2 linked regions of the Homo sapiens genome follow. The protein of the gene in region 1 interacts with the protein of each later gene in a pairwise test. Each region holds a gene or a part of one and is shown on either strand. Other genes may lie near its edges.

Region 1 (8,160 bases):
CAAAGAGGGGGTTCCTTGTCCTAGGGGTGGGGAGAGCAAGAGGACGCGACCTGGCGAGATTGCCCCTAGTCTGGGGCCGCCTCTAGGCTTCGGAAACTGCACACGGCGCGCGGGGGGCTCCTTCTCGCGGCCGGCTGGCGGCGGCAGCGGCTGCGATTCGCAGGCTCGAGATTCGTTGCCCCGAGATCCGCTGCCCACGACTTACCTCTTGGCACCTTGAAGCGCGAGAGACAGGGGAGCTTTGCAAATTGCAGGAGGGAGTGGATGCAAAGAGGTGGCTGTGAGAGGGCGAGAAGAAAAGAAGGGAAAGGAAGGAGCCTAGCCGGGGAGCCGGGCTGGCAGCCGCCGCGGGAGGAATCTGAGCGTGCAGCCCGCGCGGGGGGAGCGGCGGCCGCCGCGGAGGCGGCGGCGCGGGAGGGCGGAGGCGCGGCCGCCTGCAGCTGGGTAGCAGCGCGCGGCGCGGCGCGGCGGTGGCGGGCAGCGCGCGGCAATGCCGGCCCCGGGGCTGGACTGCTGAACCCACACCGCTTCACCACCGGACTCCAACTGGGAGGGGGCGCCAGCGCACCCAGGACGCGGTGCCCCAAGGGACCCCATTCCAAGCTGCAAACTCAAGTCCCCCGCCTCCCCAGGCCAAACACACCCCCGCGCCCGTTCGCAGCTGCCACCCCGGGTGTTCCAAAGACTCCGGCAAAGATCTGCGCCTCCCGGGTCTCCCTACCCGCCAGCCCGACTGCGCCGCATCGCCAGACTCTGTTGGCCCATCAGACTCCGCCCGGCAGTCGGCCTCATCAAACTTGATTTCTCACCTCCTCAGCCCCATCACCTCCATCCTCTTTCCCCCCGTCTCGCCTTCACCCCCCCAATTTCCTCCTTGCCCCTCATTTCCACCCTCCTCCCCCTCCCCCGGCCACTTCGCTAACTTGTGGCTGTTGTGATGCGTATTCCCGTAGATCCGAGCACCAGCCGGCGCTTCAGCCCCCCCTCCAGCAGCCTGCAGCCCGGCAAAATGAGCGACGTGAGCCCGGTGGTGGCTGCGCAACAGCAGCAGCAACAGCAGCAGCAGCAACAGCAGCAGCAGCAGCAGCAACAGCAGCAGCAGCAGCAGGAGGCGGCGGCGGCGGCTGCGGCGGCGGCGGCGGCTGCGGCGGCGGCAGCTGCAGTGCCCCGGTTGCGGCCGCCCCACGACAACCGCACCATGGTGGAGATCATCGCCGACCACCCGGCCGAACTCGTCCGCACCGACAGCCCCAACTTCCTGTGCTCGGTGCTGCCCTCGCACTGGCGCTGCAACAAGACCCTGCCCGTGGCCTTCAAGGTAAGAGGCTACACCGCCCCCCGCCCCCGGCCGGGAGCGGCGGAACCTGCCCGCCGGTGTCTTCCTGCCCACGGGGCTGGGCCCCGGACGTCCTCCAAGACCTCCTGCCTTGGCGGCTCTAACCCCAGAAACCCCCGGCCGGGCCTCCCTCCGGATGCCCTGGCGGGCTCGGGGCTCAGTCCCTCCGCGCAAATCCCTCCCTCTCCCACCTGTGCCCGCTGCCACCCCGACTTCAGCCCTAGTCCCCCTGACCCGTTCAGCACTCCTCATGCCTCCTGCCTGGCCTTGATTCTCACTCACTCCTTCGCGCCGTCTCCCTTTCCCCCAGGATCCCCAAAGTACCCACTCTTGCACTGCGAGCGGACTTGCTCCACCCCGCCCCTTTCCCGGGGGCGAGGATCCCCGGCATTGTCCCCTGGGGCTCCCGCGTCCTTCCGGGACATCCCGGCCTGGCCGCATTGCGGGCTGCCCGCGCAGCCTCTCTTTGGGGCTCCGCGCGCTCTCACCCGCTTCCCTCACAGCCAAACGCCTCTCCTCAGGTCTCGGCGTCCCCTTCCCCGACCCGCAGAGTTCAGCGGTCCTGGTCCCTCCCGGGCTCCCGTGCCGGGATTCGTGGGGTGCCGGTGCCGGGCATTAGTGCCCGGGGCTGGGCGTGGGGTGCTGACTGAGGCGCGCGGGCTGCGCTACCAGTGCCCGGGAGGGTCCTGGACAAACCTAGGGTCTCCAGAGGAGGGGGTGTCAGGGCGGGGGCGTTTGCTCTGTTCGCTGACCCGCGCCAGATCCCGTTACCGGGAGGAAGGCGGGGCCGCTGGGGCGTCCGCAAGCCCCGAAGCGGGGGCGTTCAGGGGGCCTGGGCGCTGAACCCTCGAGTGCTGGGAGGCGCGGGCCAGGGGACGGGGCGGGAGCTCGGGCCGCTTCTTCCAGCCGGGACCGAGCTCTGCGCCTCGCCCCGCCAGGGAGGGATGAGGGAAACCTGTGGAACAACTTTAGTTCGCCCAACTTGAAAACGGAGGTGAAATTTTGTATTTTTGCTTTATTATTATTTTTAAAGGACTTAAATCTAAAAAAGATCCCTCCTGCTTCTGAAAGGTGGTGAGAGGCTCCTGCTGGTGGCCTGAGCACGGAGTGAGCTCGAAGGCTTGAGAGCGGCCTCTGCGCGCCCCGCAGACTCTTGTGCCTGCCCGGCCCGTTAGTTTGAGGGCGGGTGGCAGCCGCGGGAGTCGCAGGCAGGTGCTCCGCAGGTTGAGGTTTTAGGATCTGGAGCCTCTCACAGTAGCCCGATGGCTCTCCATAACCCGATCCAGATTTCCCGGGGTAGCCCTCTACAGGGGGGAGACGCGGAGCCCCCAGGGCCCAGCGCACACTGGGTTGATGGGGAAACGGGTTCCCAGGCTGTCCACACTCGCAGGACTGTCCACACTCGCAAGACGCCAGGGATGCAGGGGTGGTAAGCCAGACGTGGAGATGAGACTCTCAGAAAGGTGCTTTGGGCCCTTGCTAACCTCTGAACTTGAGTAGGTGGGCCTGGGTCCCCTGGGTTCTGAGGTCTGTGGAGAGCAGGGCAAGCAAGGCCTTGGGGGAGGTTAAAAAAAAAAGTTGGGGGAGGAATCATGCCAGTTTCTCCGCTGGGGACCCTGGGGCCAAACTCCCACGGGCCACTGACAGTTCCCAGTTGTTGATCACCCCCACCCCACGCACCAATTCAGATTCCGTGTGTGGGTGGGATGGAAAGAAAGAGGAGTCCAGGTCAATTAGACCTGGTTATCTCGCTAGGACTTATATCAGAACAGAAATCAGAATGAATTGTTATGGAAAGGGGATGTTGCATTCTGGGGCAAGTTTCATTTTGCAGTTGGCTCAAGAAATTTTTTTTTTTAACCGTCACATTTCTCCTTTTATAAACCACCCATTTTGTAGGTTAATGTTTGCTTCCTTGAAATAGGAAAAGCTCAGAATACATGTGAATTGTATAAATTTAAATTTCCATACAATATATATCTTTTACAATGTCCATCGTCCAAGGGCCCAGAATTTTTAAATTAGTCTTATATGAGAATGGAAATTTGTTTCCACCAACGCCCTCCAATCCCCCAAACCAAAAGCCCCCAAAAACCCCAAACCTGGATGAAAACAGCAAAAAATACAAATAAGTAGATACCTTGTCTGCACAATGCCACAAATCAGAATATGTGAAAATATAAGAACAGATGCTTACATTTTTAAAGTGTTCCATATACCATTCTGCTAAACATATTTAAGGTCTATCTTGAACTGTTCTCTTGCATTTATGCGGCTGAATTGATTTGAACATGAGCATTTTGGATGGAAAGGTTGTTTTTTGCACTTTAGCTTGAGCTAGTCTCAGATATTTTGGCTGTCATCTAAGATTTTTCACTACCACCCTTTAAAAATTATTTTGAAAATAAATTTTGCTCTTTGTTATTAATCAACTTGTTAATCACACAGAGTACATTTTTGTATCTTAAGCAGTAAACAGACCGTAGGTAACAAGACCATATTAAATTGACTATTTTAATTCATATCAATTGAATAATGAATTGAGTTAACCTACAACCTGACTGTCAATGTCTTTCTATCAACATACCTGTGTTAAACAATTCAAAAAGTGGGTGATAGCTAAGATCTACTCAGTATAGAAAATACTCTGTTGAGAAAAAATGTATGGATGTTTGGAACATCCAGATTGTGACAACCTCTCTTTACCCTACTTTTGGAATAAAAGCCTGAGAGCACTAGACTTTCTATACTCTTACAATATAATCAAATACATCTGCAATGAAGAAATAATATGAAGAAGTCTCCCTTTTAAAAGTGGTGACAGCAATTTGGCCATGATATTTAGAGCTATGTAAAAAATAGATTATAGTGGTTGTCAGGTCAATAGCAGATAGGTAAATGGATTTAAACACACACATACACACACACACACACAACTTATTTGTTGTGAAGTCTGATATTCAAATCAATACAATATTTATTGAGCCCGTATTTTGTATCTGTCACACTGAGCTTGACACCGCAGAGAATCAGAAATGAATTCAATAGACTGTTTTGAAATGTCAGTTTAAACTCGTGTTTAAACACGATATTGTCAATCTATTTCATTAAGAATGTATTAGCGTTGTTCATCTACTCTTGTTTCGAGATGATATAAAATTTATTTATTTTTACATGTAAAAATGCAAAAACAACTGGTATACTTTATATAAAGTTGTTTATTAACATTGTATTTTTAACAAAGTTCTGCAGTTTTGAAATGTTCGGTCCCCCCAGGTGTCAAGGAAACGGAAATAAATATTTTTAACATTTTCAGGTGTATCTCACTGAAACCTTAAAATAGTTAGGGCATACTATTAGAGGATCCCAGACCCTTTCTATCCTAGATAATTCTAGTGACAAAGAAGTAATTTGCAAATTCAGCTCATTAGCTGATGGTCAGGTAACGGTGGAGAGAGCGTGTCAACCATGCATCCAGTAGCACCCTTTTAGTTAGGGGTCTGTCAGCATTTCCACTGTGAAGCCTGGTGTTCAGGGTTCGTAACTTAGTTGCCTTAAATAGCTTCAAGCTGAAACACTATGCAGAAATTTTAAGTCCAGATGTATATTTTAAAACTAAAAGTAGTTCAAGTCTATTCTGCTGTTTTAAGTTAGAGAACACTGGACTACATATATTTATCAGTATCATATGTTTTTCTGGCAGTGTTAAAGAAAGAAAACACATTTTTAGATATATAAGCTAGCACTCATAGTTAATTCTGTATATTTAATAATACCTTTCAGTGCTTGTCAAAAGGAGGGGTTTCAAAATGACAGAGCAATTTCTGTTTGAAAATAAATTTTTGGCATCACTAGCCATTTTTCTCTCTTCGAAAACAAATATACAACTGGTAAATACTTGATACCAGTGAGTAGTATTTTTCTTACATAGTTAATGATCAGATTTTATGTTTATATTTTTTGAATCTCATTGTATCTAAACTAGGGAAAATAGGTTGTTAAGCCTGTTAAATCCTTATTAACCGTAATATAAATTATTATGCAAAATTATGTAAATCAATAGATTTCAAGTTGTGTGAAGACAGACACATTTTTGTGTTATGCCTTTGAATTCAAGAAAACTTATTTAAAGTTAAATATTTTGGGACTGAATATATAAAACTTCTAAGTAAGGAAGTTGGAACAAAGAATTTCAGGTGGAAAATAAATACTTATAAAATTTTTTAGAAAACTTCTATTAAATATTTGAAAATAGGTATGGTAGATATCTTTCATTATTTTTTCCTCTTTGGCATTATTGTTTGTATCCTTTCAAAATTCCAGAATATCTATTGTTAGATGATCTAAACCACCATGATACATGGCCCACAAATTGCTGCTTTACATTGAAATAATTTTTATCAAAATTTATCTTTGACATATATATTTTTAAAATTATGAAATGACATATTGTGTTTTTTCTCTAAAATTCAATGGGCTTTTCCTAAGTTCTAGGATAAATTCAAAATATTAACTGTAGTATTTGTTGAAATGTTTTGATACTGTATTTGAAGTTATCTTTAAGTAATTGTGATAGGAATAACATTTTTGCTTTTTGCAATTAGTCTCACTTCTCTTTTTATTGCAAAGAAAGATTTGATCAGATTTTATCTTGAAAAATAATTATATTTCAATTATACCGCAAGTACAATATCCTGAATTATTTTGGCCTATAAGAGTAATTGATTAGTTAAGACTAGACTTCTGTCCATGGAAATGTCATAGGCAATTTTAATTTCCATATAAAAAGATGAGAAACTGTTTTAAGGGTTTGAGTTAATTCTCCATTCCTCTTCTTTTAGTGATTCACAGATTTAGTCATAAGGAGTCTCATACAAAATTTCAATAGCATTACTACAGTTAAATATCCTTCTACTTTATTTTGTGCAAGCCACATATCATGTGATTTAAATGCTAGTTATGGTGAGGTGCGCTAAATAAAGGAACGTCTTTCTCTATTCTGAAATGTCAGGACAGAAAATTACTTCTCCTTTTCTCATGGAGTTTCTTGAATTTGTAGATTTTATATTTTAAAAAAACATAGAAATGTAATTGTTAAGATCATCACAAATTATTCTTTGCAGAGCAGTACTTTTGTATTGGGTAGGATGGAAGCAAATTCTAATTTGTGCTTATTCCTAACTAGTTAAAGAGCGAGTTTTGACTGCACTTTACCCCTTCAAATGTTTTTCCATTGCTTGGTTTTGGTACAGATGAAATGTGTAAAAATTTCTTGATTCTTTTGGTTTTCTTTTAGATAAACACAGTTGAGAATCTCCAAGGGAAACTTTTTAGCTTCAGAGATCTACTTAAAGAAAAAACCTCTCAAACATATAATTATACTTCTGATTGATATAAAGTCAAATACAGTACTTCCCCCAACTCCCAACCTTTTCTCCCCCTCAGAAAAACATCGGGCAATCTGATTTGGTAGAGTGAATAGCAGAAAAAAAACCAATATATTTAGCCATTAAACTAGAGTTCAGCTTTAACAGGAAAGATTGTCACTACCTTGCATTAGCATTTTTTTTCAGGTCTTGCTCTCAGCCTCATAGAAGGCTCACACAACTTGTGATTATTTATTTGTTTTGTAAAATGTGATACGTAAAACACACTAATATTGAATATGGTCATTATTATACTGCTTAAGCACAGTAAAATGGATGTATGTATTTCACTCTTAGGGATCTTTTCTTTCATATTTTCCCATATTGAATCAATTTTCCATTTCTTCTAACTAAAAAAAAATTCATTATGTTAAAAATATGCAGTAAAATAATAATGTCCCAGAGTTCTTGAAAACCTTTATATTGGGGCAGATTGCTTTTTTTTTTTTTTTTTCGGAAATGTAGCCAGACTTGAGTGAAATCCACCAGCAGTCATCCTGTATCTCTCAACAACATCAAAGAACATCTCAGAACATGAAGTGAGGAAGTACGTACTCAGTTGAACCCTTTAAGAATGCTTATAAGTAAAAGCCTATGTTTAACAGACAGCAGATTTGGAACAGAACACTGTGTTACCCTCCTCATCTTACAAAAAGCACATCATTATAATTACACTCTATACTTATATAGTATCTTCTACATTTTGCAGACTTTCCAATTCATATTGGAAAACTGTGGTTCCTGGAGATGAAGTTATTTTGTGTGAGGTCATAGCAGATATGTAGCAGAAGTGGGGAAAAAGTGGAGCCTCTTGATTTTGGTATATTCATTCTCTTCTAAACAGTACAACTTTTCTCCTGCCTTTATTAATATGCTTACTGGGTCCATATTTACTTTGACATAGAAAGCCACGCAGCAGGTGTTAAAATACAATATGCTGAGTGTACAAAATGTCAAACATTCAGATGAATCCTGGCGAATGTAGTCAATTATTGCAGTATTTTCAAATGTTCACATTTTTGGCATGGTGAATTTGAAAAATTGAAAAGCACATTGCCTCCATCAGGAGTACAGCATTACCTGTATTCAGTAGCCGCTTGAGATATGAGATGACGTGTACAGAGAGGAAGTCTTATTTTCAAGGGATTTTACTTTTGATCCAGGAGACTTCTCATATTGAGAATAACTATATTCTCCAGGGAAAGGGAGGCAGCATGGTTCCGTCTCCTCTGAGATGAAAACAATGTCAGAAAACAAGCTGGGGGCAAGGGCACATTGCTGTTAGCAAGGGGTGCTGACTCAACATTAACTGGCCCTCTCAGAGTTTTAGTGGGTAGCCCCACAGACTTCTGTCTCTGCGAAGTGGGGCTCTTTATGGAGCTCTTTCATTTATTTCAA
Region 2 (7,000 bases), on another chromosome or scaffold:
CCCTGTGTCTGGCCTCTCGTGCTCAATGGGATGCCCTTCAGATTCATGCACCTTGTTGCAGGTTTCGGTAGCTTGTTCCTTTTTCTTGGTGAGTAGTGTTCCATTGGCTGGATGTGCCTAGTTTTTGTTTATTGGTTTTCTGTTGATAGATATCTGAGCTGGTTTCTGGGTTTGGGTGGTTAGGACTAGAGCTACTAGTCCTAGCAACATTAACTAAATCACGGAAATTTAGAGCTGGGGAGAGTAATGATCTCATTGTTCGGATGGGAAGACTGAGGCCAGAGGAGGGAGATGACCTGCTGGATCAGGGCCAGGAGGCAGGACTCCTCCCAGGCTAGTGCCACTCTGCCAGATCCACCCCAGACACAGCTCCTCTCCTCCTCCCCCTGGAACCCTCCCAGCAGGACCCAGAGTCTGGCTGGGAACTAGGCCAGGCCCTGAGCAGGGGGTAGTGAGCGGGAGTTTCGGTCAGAGCTCGGTCATCTTTGATGTTGTTCACTCGTGTCTGACTCCTTGGTATTTATTTGCAATTAAAGAGCTGGTTCCTAATTAGGCTGATGGCCGTGGGAGATGGCAGTACCACAGCCTAGGAACCACGAGGAGAAAAAGATCCTTCTGTAAGAGACTGTCCCCTCACCTGAGTGGCAGCCCAGGCTTGTGACTGAGAGGCACAGGGGGAGGGGGCTGTGCAGCTGTGGGAAGTACAGAGTGGGGACCATGGGTTAGGGGGTGCCCACCTTCTCACTCATAGTGTTGCAGAGCACGTCAGCTTGTGTTGGACACACCGCATGAAATCTGAATGCACGTATGTGTGTGAGAGAATGGAGCTAAAGCAGGGCTCATTCTAGACATTCAGACATTTGTTGCTTCATTCTTCCATTCCTTCACTCACTGGGCACCTCTTTCACCGCAGGTGCCAGGCTAGGGGCTAACCCCTAACATTTGTAAAGTGCTTTGCGGTTTGCAAAGGGCCTTGTCATCCACAGTCCTATTGAGACCTTCCATGGCAGTGACCCTGGGCCATGACCCCCAACCCCACTAAAGATCCCTGGCCTCTGAAGGGTAAGGCCAACACTGGAGCCCGTAAACAAGGCACCTCCTTCCTTCTGCACCCACTTGATTTTGCCAGAGTTTCCAGAAAATTCAGAGATGGACTGTGGTGAGTGGGGTACTTAATTATTGAATCAGTCCTTTTACAAATACAGAGACTGAGGCTTGGAGACGTTTAGCAGTTTATCGATGGCCACATATCCAGTCAGTGGTGGCAGCCTTAGGTCATTCTCACTGTGAAACCTTTTGGACCATGTGGCATGGATTAGAGTAGAATTCTGGGCTCTCAAGTTCTGGCCCTAGGTCTGCCACCTGCTGCTGTGTGTACTTGGGCAAGTCCCTTGACGCCCCCCAGGATGCTATCTTTGGGGCACCAGATTATTAGACTCCATTAGTGGTCCCAACAGGCCAGTCTCAGGACCAAGTTTTCATTGGTCCATGGTGACAGAAATAAAAATAAGTTAGAAAATAAGTCTGTACATGGCAAAATAAAGCGGTGGTAGTCTGGGTGAGCAGTGGCTCATGCCTGTAATTCCAACACTTTGGGAAACCAAGACAGGCAGATTGCTTGAGCCCAGGAGTTTGAGACCACCCTGGGTAACATGGCAAAACCCGGTGGTGTGTGCCTCTAATGCCAACTACTTGGGAAGCTGAGGAGGGAGAATCGCTTGAGCCTGGGAGGTCGAGGCCGCAGTGAGCCATGACTGCACCACAGTACTTCTGCCTGAGTGACAGAGTGAGACCATTGCTCAAACAAAAACAAAAACGAAGCAGTGGTCGCCCTGTGTCATTCCCAACTCCCCTGTTAAAAACATGTGTTGGTTTGTGGAAGCCTGAAGTGTTGGGTCTCACTGGATAAGATAATGTCAGCGGATACTCGAGCTCTGACGCCCTGGGACTGAGAGTTGAGTGGGGACAGGGAGGCTGAGTGGGTGGCTTACCCTCTGGATCAGACAAGAGACCCCAGTTTTTGCCCACCACGCTTCAGTGCCCTAGGGCCTGAGCCCAGCAGCCTACCTGCTGGGCAGGATTCCCCGTGGGGTGTGGGGTGGGGGCAATGTCTAGGCACTGGGACATATTTTATTTCCTGTCCCCTTCCCTTTTATTAGGTTGGTGCAAAAGTAATTGAGGCAGGAGGGTCACTTGAGCCCAGGAGTTTAAGCCCAGCCTGGGCAACAAAGCAAGACCTCATCTCTACAAAAAAGCTTTTGAAAATTAGCTGGGCATGATGATGTACATCGCAGTCCCAGCTATTCAGGAAGCTAAGACAGGAGGATTGCTTGAGCTCAAGGAATATATGCAGCCCTGGGATAGATGGAGACCCACCCCTCCCCTTACCAGTCAGAGAGTGTAGACCAACTGGGGGGCACTGACCAGGAGCGCAGACACCTGTTAAGGCCAAGGGAGGGGCTGCAGTTCAGGTGCCCCAGGAAGGAGAGGTCAGAGAGGGCTTCCCAGAGTGGCAGTCTGTCTCCCTGAATTTGGGAGACATGGCCAGGAGCGCAGGCCTGATGATGTGTAACCCAGTCTGTTCAACCAAGGAAGCCGCAGGGGATGGGGCCTGGCTCAAGCCCAGGGTGTCCCTTAGCTGGATGGCTGGGGCAGGCAAGGCCTGAAGGCGGCTCTATGGGTTCATCCCCAGTCATAGGGTACCATAAGGTGTGCTGGGGCTAGGCTGGGGACATGGGTTTTGATTGGGGGGATGGAAGGAGTTTGGCCTGGCTGGGGTGGAGGGAACTGAGAGGAGGGGGATAGGAAGTCCCACCTGTCCTTGAATTGAAAAACTTTCTTTTCTTTTCCTTTTTTTTTTTTTTTGAGACAAGGTCTCACTCTGTCATCCAGATTGGAATGCAGTAGCACAATGACTGTTCCCGGTAGCTTCAAACTTGGGCTCAAGCAATCCTCCTGTCTCAGCTTCCCAAGTAGCTGGGACTACAGATGTACACCATCATACCCACCTAATTTTTAAAAGTTTTTTTAGAGATGAGGTCTTGCTTTGTTGCCCATGCTGGGCTTAAACTCCTGAGCTCAAATGAGCCTCCTGCCTCAGCCTCCCAGAGTTCCCAGCCAGAAACCTTTTGGAAGCTGGGAAAGAGAAAGTCGCTTCCCCTGCCCCCTGTGCCCCTGTCCTTCCCCAGCTAGACTCTCCCTTTTTCCATGGGTGGGGCAGAGCTGTCACTCTGTGGCTGGGCAGCTGTCTCAGAGCCTTGTCTGTGAAGAGGTGCAGCAGTGACCCCTCCCTTAGTGAGACAGTAAAGTGAGTCCTCCAAGAGTGGGGATAGTGACACCTCAGCTTGTAAATAGTAACCTCTAGGGCTCATGGACCATGAGAGCAGTCATGCTTACATATAGGGAAACTGAGGCTTAGGGAGGTAGAGGGACTTGCTCAGTGTGCAGGTTTTAGGAAGGAGCCAGGACAGAACTCTATCTGGAGTGTGGAGAAGAGCTCCCCTCTAGAGTGTGGCCTAGCACCAAGGCGGCCCCAGCATTCACTGGTGTATACCCTGGGCCTCAGTTTCCTCACCTGTGGAATGGGCTGCTAGTAGAGGTGAGATGAGGCTGTTGTGAAGAACGGGCCCAGCTCGTAGAAGGCACTCATGGATGCCGTTGCCCGTCCTGTCTCCCAGCATACTCCAGGCATCGCTTCTTTGCATCCCCACCTTGCTGTGCCTGACACACTCGTGGAATTCTTGTTGGTTGGTGGGCAGTGTGGGTGCTGCAGTTTCGTGGCTAGGCTGGCATGGTGCTGCTTTTCTGGCCCTTGGGGACTCCCAGACCTGTGCCAGGTAGATGGCTGGGGAGAGGGGCACTGGAGTGGGGTGGCTGGGGAGAGGGGCACTGGAGTGGGGTGGCTGGAGCTCAGAGTCTGGCTGTTCCCAGCTGCCCACCTGCTGGGACTGGCCTGATGCTTGCAGCCTAGTGACCTCCCAAGGGCTTGAGCTGTCTCTGTCACTATTGCCCACTGGCTAAGGGGCAGTTCTGTCGAGGGCAGGATGCAGGACCTCTTCCTCCTCTCCTGACCATCAGCTGGAAGCATCAGAGGCCTCACTGGAGACTCTGAGGCAAAATGATCCAAGCTGCGGGCTGGTGTGAGGACTTGGATTACCCCCCAGCAGACTTGGGGACCTGTGTCTGGGACCTCAGTGCCAGGCCCAGGACAAGGGGCACACTCATGAAACCTGTATCCAGCCCAAAGCCACAGCAGAGCAGTCAGCCTCCAGGAGGCCCCTGAGGCAGACAGCCTCCTGCTGGGTGGCTGGGCGGGCCTCCCAGTGTGTAAGGGGATGTCAGGGGCCCTGCCACCCTGTTCTTCTGGGGCTTCTAGGCAGGGGCAAGACCAAGGCAAAGGCGTCCAGAGCTGGCCTCACTCAGGCTCCCAGGTGAAGCTGTTAGAAGTGTTGTCCTCTGGGATTTGGTTGGACTTTGATCAGTTTTCCTCAGAAAAAGAGCCATGAATTGCTTTGCTTTGCTCTGTCAAGCCTCCAGCAGAACGCCTCCCTCTGCACAGGCCCAGGCCAGAGACCTGTGTGGAAGCAGGCATGGCAGGCAAATCATGTCACCTCACTGGGCAGTTATAGGTGCCTGCCTGCTTCTCAGAGCTGTGAGCTCAAAGGAAAGGCCAGATGTCAGAATCTGAGAAGCTGGCCACATGAGAGCAGGGAGCACCCTGGCCTGTGTTGGTCTGAACTTTGGTCTCAGAAAATTGTTAAACTCCTCCAGACACACAGACGGCCCGAGTCAGTGACAAGGGATTTCAGTAACATCTTAGCTACCCCTTTGCTATACAGTGGGGAAACTGAGGCCCAGAGAGGAGCAGCACACACCTTCAATTGCTGGGCAGCTCCAGAGCCCTTAAGGAGCCATTTTCTTTGTCATTTAGGGACCCTCAGCTCCTCTGCCATGCAGAAGTAGCTGCAGTTCTGGTACAAACCTGCATTTCCTGCCAAGAAAGCCAACTCAGGTGGGCGGTACCAGGAGGCTAAGGCTGAGTCAGGGAGCAGTCAAGCAGTCATATTTATAACAAGGCCACCACAGGAATCCCACTGCTCCAGGCCGGAAGGGATCCTGGGGGCAACTCCTCCCACCCCCAGCCCGCCTCCCTGTGCTTGAGTCCTCTAATGTGATTTCAACCTCCCCCGCCATCCCCCAATAGCCTAACCCTACTCTGTCAGGTTGAGACTTGGACTAGTGGGTTCAAATTCTGGCGGGGTGCCCTCCTCTGTAGAACGAGGAGAAGGTGGCGTCCTTGCAGAGTGATCGTGAGGACCAAGTGAGTCCTGTGTGCTGTGAAGAGTAAGAAGTACAGTGCTCCACGCCGGGTCCGTGATGGTTGCTCCACAGTCAGCCCCTCCTTTGGGGGCGTGCAGGCAGTTGTCTGTCTCTCCTGCTAGCATGAAGAGGCAGGGGCAGGGTGTGCATGGTTCATGTCTGCGTCCGCAGCATCTAGCACACAACAGGTGCTCTCTGGCTTGCACTCTGTGGCTCATAACCTTTGTTTTCTCCTTTGTGTGAGCTTGTGTGTGTGAAAGAGATGTCCCGTTGTGCGCCATATTTCCTGAGGACAACCTGGCACACGGTGCCCACATGACTGCTGAATGCTGGAAACCTTACCCAGCTCCCACTGTGCAGACAGCAGTGCCCACCTCCGCTCCTCGGTGCCTCCCACCTCCCCACCCAGAATAACGCGGCGGTCCCTGTGCTTGTCCCGCAGACGCCAGCATGTCTCCGGACGCCACCAAGCCGAGCCACTGGTGCAGCGTGGCGTACTGGGAGCACCGGACGCGCGTGGGCCGCCTCTATGCGGTGTACGACCAGGCCGTCAGCATCTTCTACGACCTACCTCAGGGCAGCGGCTTCTGCCTGGGCCAGCTCAACCTGGAGCAGCGCAGCGAGTCGGTGCGGCGAACGCGCAGCAAGATCGGCTTCGGCATCCTGCTCAGCAAGGAGCCCGACGGCGTGTGGGCCTACAACCGCGGCGAGCACCCCATCTTCGTCAACTCCCCGACGCTGGACGCGCCCGGCGGCCGCGCCCTGGTCGTGCGCAAGGTGCCCCCCGGCTACTCCATCAAGGTGTTCGACTTCGAGCGCTCGGGCCTGCAGCACGCGCCCGAGCCCGACGCCGCCGACGGCCCCTACGACCCCAACAGCGTCCGCATCAGCTTCGCCAAGGGCTGGGGGCCCTGCTACTCCCGGCAGTTCATCACCTCCTGCCCCTGCTGGCTGGAGATCCTCCTCAACAACCCCAGATAGTGGCGGCCCCGGCGGGAGGGGCGGGTGGGAGGCCGCGGCCACCGCCACCTGCCGGCCTCGAGAGGGGCCGATGCCCAGAGACACAGCCCCCACGGACAAAACCCCCCAGATATCATCTACCTAGATTTAATATAAAGTTTTATATATTATATGGAAATATATATTATACTTGTAATTATGGAGTCATTTTTACAATGTAATTATTTATGTATGGTGCAATGTGTGTATATGGACAAAACAAGAAAGACGCACTTTGGCTTATAATTCTTTCAATACAGATATATTTTCTTTCTCTTCCTCCTTCCTCTTCCTTACTTTTTATATATATATATAAAGAAAATGATACAGCAGAGCTAGGTGGAAAAGCCTGGGTTTGGTGTATGGTTTTTGAGATATTAATGCCCAGACAAAAAGCTAATACCAGTCACTCGATAATAAAGTATTCGCATTATAGTTTTTTTTAAACTGTCTTCTTTTTACAAAGAGGGGCAGGTAGGGCTTCAGCGGATTTCTGACCCATCATGTACCTTGAAACTTGACCTCAGTTTTCAAGTTTTACTTTTATTGGATAAAGACAGAACAAATTGAAAAGGGAGGAAAGTCACATTTACTCTTAAGTAAACCAGAGAAAGTTCTGTTGTTCCTTCCTGCCCATGGCTATGGGGTGTCCAGTGGATAGGGATGGCGGTGGGGAAAAGAA

Evidence for each region.
Region 2: the proteins of RUNX2 (region 1) and SMAD6 interact in binary tests that used the Homo sapiens proteins (3 or more experiments, as listed by UniProt).

What each region holds. Positions count from the first base shown.
Region 1 is NC_000006.12:45,421,640-45,429,799, forward strand, and holds part of RUNX2 (runt-related transcription factor 2), read left to right. Parts: exon of another isoform or gene 1-20; intron 21-205; exon of another isoform or gene 206-577; intron 578-635; exon of another isoform or gene 636-937; coding exon of another isoform or gene 938-953; coding exon 954-1,318; intron 1,319-8,160. UniProt on the Homo sapiens protein: Transcription factor involved in osteoblastic differentiation and skeletal morphogenesis. Essential for the maturation of osteoblasts and both intramembranous and endochondral ossification.
Region 2 is NC_000015.10:66,775,236-66,782,235, forward strand, and holds part of SMAD6 (mothers against decapentaplegic homolog 6), read left to right. Parts: intron 1-5,761; coding exon 5,762-6,300; 3' UTR 6,301-7,000. UniProt on the Homo sapiens protein: Transforming growth factor-beta superfamily receptors signaling occurs through the Smad family of intracellular mediators. SMAD6 is an inhibitory Smad (i-Smad) that negatively regulates signaling downstream of type I transforming growth factor-beta.